Linked DNA regions of Homo sapiens: region 2 is linked to region 1. Evidence: fine-mapped expression QTL. Tissue or cell type: whole blood. Region 1 holds a variant in brackets; the other region holds the start of a gene. All regions are shown on one strand. Distances are from middle to middle.

What was found. PIP is the estimated chance that this variant, and not a neighbour inherited with it, causes the effect.
Region 2: it holds the start of MED15, and the variant in region 1 is fine-mapped to the expression of MED15 in whole blood (TOPMed, PIP 0.92).

The regions. Positions count from the first base shown.
Region 1 is chr22:20,528,638-20,531,137 of GRCh38, reverse strand. All of the region lies in intron 1 of MED15 (mediator complex subunit 15), which reads right to left. Among named protein-coding and RNA genes, the nearest start is that of MED15, 22 kb to the right of the region's middle. RefSeq lists an enhancer at 1-978. The variant G/A (reference allele first, on the strand shown) is at 1,188.
Region 2 is chr22:20,506,447-20,509,093 of GRCh38, reverse strand. MED15 (mediator complex subunit 15) reads right to left here and starts at 1,484. Exons shown (of 18, transcript NM_001003891.3): 1 at 1,348-1,484. The coding sequence starts at 1,415. RefSeq lists an enhancer at 1,392-1,501.

The DNA of each region.
Region 1 (2,500 bases):
AGGGAGGCCTGAGGCAAGCTGCCCCGGTCTGCCCTCAACCCATCTGGCAGCGCCTCCCTATCCTTCCTTTGCACAAAGGGTGGGGACAGTGCCGACCTCACGGGTAGCCCTGAGGATGATAGTAGTTAATATTATAAGGCACTGGACATACAGGAAGTGCTAGGTATGCGTTAAAGAAATAAGTCAGGCAACAACCTGCCCAAATGTGCAATAGGATGCATCCCAAAACACCTCCGCCATGTGTTGAGGTTATTGTTGCCCCCTCCTCAGCAGACGATGGCCCAATGAGCATGTGCAGCTCCCTCAGGCAGAGCCACCCTCCCATTGGAGCTCTGAGTCACCTGCAGTGTACCCTGAGGCCAGCTCCACCGCCCGCAAGAAGGACACTCACACAGGCATGTTGATGAGGCATGAACTGGCCTCCCCACCCCAACTCCCGCTCTGCTCTGCTCCACGCCCTGACTCTTCCTTCCACAACCGCCCTGGTTCCCACCAAGGACCCTCTCCCCTCTCAGTGAGGCCTCTCCCCTGACCCCACCCTCTTTACCACTGCTCCCCCTGCCACACTGCCAGGCCCCCTTCCCTGGTCCAACTGCTTTCCCATTGCTGAATGAGGGCATGAATTCCCAGGACAGCCAGCTTCTCTGTCCTCTGCTGGTGTCTAAAGCAGGAAGGTGCGTTCCTCCCTGGGGCACAGATTCACCCTCCTGACCTCAGGGGGGCAGGATGATTCCTCTCAGCCGATTTATGTTCTGCTCGAAGGAAACTTCTGTGAGTTTCTTCTAATTTTCTAATTTTGAGAAACACAACATCTATCAATCAAGTGAACTCTCATAGGGCAGAATAAATTTTTGGCAGCTCCACTTCACCCCACCCAAGAAGCCTCCCAGTAAATTGCTGCCTGTGTGTGCAGCCTGCTTGCCCACCTGGGACAGGAGCCCACAGCTTGTATGTGGGACCCTTTACCCTATGTGTTTAAAAACCTAAATCACAGAGGACCACAAGACAACAGAAGGAGAGTTATACAATATCAGGATGATGGTTTCCTAAGCATGTCACCAGAAGCAGACACTATAAAGGAAAAAAGATTTTCCCATATTAAAAAAAAGATTTGGACTAGGTGTGGTGGTTCACGCCTGTAATCCCAGCACTCTGGGAGGCGGAGGTAGGTGGATCACTTGAGGTCA[G/A]GAGTTCGAGACCAGCCTGGCCAACATGGTGAAACGTCTCTACTAAAAATACAAAAATTAGCTGAGCACAGTGGCTCACGCCTGTAATCCCAGCACTTTGGGAGGCCAAGGCAGGTGGATCACCTGAGGTCCGGAGTTCGAGACCAGACTGGCCAACATGGTGAAACCCCATCCCTACTAAAAATACAAAAGGGCAAGGTGGTGGGCGCTGCAATCCCAGCTACTCGGGAGGCTGAGGTAGGAGGATGGCTTGAACCCGGGAGGCAAAGGTTGCAATGAGCCAAGATCCCACCACTGCACTCCAGCCTGAGCAACAAGAGTGAAACTCTGTCTCAAAAATAAAAAATAAAAATACAAAAATTAGCCAGGCATGGTGGCGTGCATTATAATCCCAGTTACTCGGGAGGCCGAGGCAGGAGAATCACTTGAACCTGGGAGGTGAAGGTTGCAGTGAGCCAAGATCAAGCCATTGCACTCCAGCCTGGGTGACAAGAGTAAAACTCTGTCTCAAAAAAATATATACGTAAATATAAAAATTAGCTGGGCATGGTGGTGTGCGGCCATAATCCCAGCTACTTGGGAAGCTGAGGCAAGAGAATCGCTTGAACCAGGGAGGTGGAGGTTGCAGTGAGCCAAGGTAGCACCACTGCACTCCAGCCTGGGTAACAGAGTGAGACTCTGTCTCTAAATAAATAAATAAATAACAGATATGAACCTCCAAGTTGAAATGAGGAACAAAGCCTGCACATTTAATTCCCTTCCATCTTAAAACCTGACTAAAACCACAGAAAAAAAAACCAGGAAGAATGGAAATGGTGGCCTCAACAGCCTTTTAGAAGCTGGAAAGCTGATGGCCCAGTGGTAACGTACACAGCAAGAGGACCAAGAAACCAGAGTCCTAAGTAACAGTGAGGAGGGGGTGCGCCCACCCAGTGACAGCCCTAGGTCTTTGCCAGGTTGAGGCCAGGCTGCACCAAGTGCTCTGGGACAGAGGGTGAAAGATATCCCTGCATCCCTCACTCCCCAACTTTACACTGTGGGTAGCTACTCCAGCACCAGGTGACCACAGGAGGTTTACTCTCTGGAAAAGCATGAAACGGATAGTCACTGGACTAGGGGGCCAACCCACCCAGTTGAAAAGGCACAGGTAGGACACTGAGAGAGGTGGGTTGTGTGGTCATCTGTGCTCTGGTCTAAGTGACTAGATCGATGCACGCTAACTGCCGAGACCCACTGGCCCATCAGCCTCCTCCATCGCAGTGAGCAGCATGCTGGCAGCCAGGTCTTCACCCACAGCCCAGTGTCTGGAAGAC
Region 2 (2,647 bases), 22 kb after region 1:
TCCTAACTCCTCAGCTTGGAATGGTGGCTATTCACACTCCTACTTGTCTTTCTAGGACTCAATTTATTCGTCACCTACTCACTAGACTGCCCCTGGTCTGCTCAAGTTAACCGCCGCTTCGCAAGAAACCCCTGCAGTATACACATTACAGACTGACAAGACTGCGCTGTGACGGTTCCTTTACCATCCCTCAGGAAAGGGGCTGTGTCTCAGGCAAATCTGTGGCGAGCACAACACGCCAATAAGCTCAGTTAAAAACTGTCAGGCCTCTGAGCCCAGGCCAGGCCATCGCATCCCCTGTGACTTGCACGTATACATCCAGATGGCCTGAAGTAACTGAAGATCCACAAAAGAAGTAAAAACAGCCGTAACTGATGACATTCCACCATTGTGATTTGTTCCTGCCCCACCCTAACTGATCAATGTACTTTGTAATCTCCCCCACCCTTAAGAAGGTTCTTTGTAATTCTCCCCACCCTTGAGAATGTACTTTGTGAGATCCATCCCTGCCCACCAGAGAACAATTGACTAATTTTCCATTACCTTCCCAAATCCTATAAAACGACCCCACCCCTATCTCCCTTCGCTGACTCTCTTTTCGGACTCAGCCCACCTGCACCCAGGTGAAATAAACAGCTTTATTGCTCACACAAAGCCTGTTTGGTGGTCTCTTCACACGGACGCGCATGAAAAAAACTGCTAACAGAAACAAGCAGTCGGTGGTGAGGGGCTAGAGTTCCTCTGAGCGGGGCCACTGACCCCAGCTCTTCACGCTCTCCTCCAGAAACGACGATCGCTTCCTGACAGCGGCTTCCTGCCATCCTTCGGCAAAGTCCACATTCCTTCGGGGGGTCACCCTCAGATCCTCCGTCCCACCGCCCACACCCCAAACAACTACCTTCCCAATCTCATCTTACATCCACCCTCCTCCCATCACTTTCTTTCACCGTTGATGCGCTTTTCTGGAAGAGAAACCATGAAGCACCCAGCCCTGCTAAACCCACTACAGCCGGCTGCTTCTCTCCCTTTCCCTATTCAGTGTGGTTCAAAAAGCGGGGGAAAGTCTGCACCCAAAGCACACAAATGACGAATGAGAAAGCTCAAGACGATGATTCATAAGCCAGGGCTCGTTGGTTTGCAGAGCTCGGCCCCAGGAAAGCAAACGAGCAGTCCATGTCGGGAACGGAGGGGACAGACGGGGGGGCCCGAGCCCTGGGACCCACGCAAGTCCCCGGCGCCTTCTGTCTCCCGGCGCCGTAGGTTTCTCACGGGTCCGGCCCTGGCCTCGCCCGCCACGCTAAGGAGGAAGGTCCCACAATCCAGCCCCCTGCCCCGACCACTACTCACATTTGACTGACCAGCTTCTGCCGGAAGGCGGTGCTCCGCCAGTCGGTCTCTTGCCCGGAAACGTCCATGCCTGTTCCCCAGCTCCCGCCGCCCGTATCCCGCTTGGCCGCCACCGCCGCCGCCTCAGTCACAGAGCCAGGCCCAAACCCGGAAGCCGTCCGCAGTGCCTCGGCCGAGCCGGAAGTGAAGGAGGGCTTGTGGGAAATGGAGTCTCGCGCACAGGCTTGTGGGAAATGAAGTTCCCCGCCGGGGACGAAGCGGTCTCGGTTCCGCCCGGCTGGGAGACACACGCCCCTCTTCCAGTGCAGCTGTCGGACACGGCAGGTGCTCCCGCAGCAGACCTGCGCCTGACCGCCTGCATTTTCTGCAACTCTTCAGTGTGCTGGCCTTATCTAGTCCCTGAGATCCAGACCCCTCCGGGATGCCAGGCCAAGCTGCCAGCTATCTATAGTAATGCTAGGGAGAGAGTGTTTATTTATCAAATATGTGTGGGTACCTACTGTGTGCCAGTGCAACGTGATCTGGGATCTGCTTTCATGCAACTGCCTGCTAGCGCCGCATCCGAAGAGCGACCAGATGGACTCTCATCACCGCTTCACTCTTCGATTTTTTGAATCTCACATCTCACAATGGCTGTATTTGGGGGTTGGGAATGTGAGGCCCCTAAACCACGTTAATTAATTTTTAGACATGGGCTTTCCCTTTTGACCAGCAGCCACGTCCCCTTCATGGAGAACTCAGCCTAGCTAGTTGCTGGAGGCCAGATGTCAAACGAATTTGATAGGTGAAGGTGAGCGAGCTGAAGGTGGGATGAGGGGTTATGGGGGCCTGAGAATGCTTTTAGGAATGTAAAAGTTCTGCCTCCTTGGAACTATGGGGCCTTTATCTGCTACCCTGGGGAGGGAGGTGACGTGAGGAAAATCTGGAGCCCAAGTGGTCAATAAGCACCAGGTGGACACCAACCAACATGGGCCTCAGGAGACTGTGGACTGGCACCTACTGAAGCCTAAGTGCCAGGCCCCTGCTAGGCACTGTACACCCCTTACACCCCTTGTTACTGTGCCCCAGACAGGAGGTTGAAGGTGGTAGAGAGTGGGTGGGAGAGGAGTGAGCACTCTCCCCAAAGAGGCCTCTCTTGCCAACAGAGTTTCATGTCTTGTGTTGATGTGAGAGCTGTTCATGTTTTCAAACGTTTTCTGCTCTAATACTCCCAAAATCGTTATTGTTTTTTTTGAGGGGGGGGGGATAGAATTTAGCCCTTGTTGGCCAGGCTGGAGTGCAGTGGTGCCATCTCGGCTCA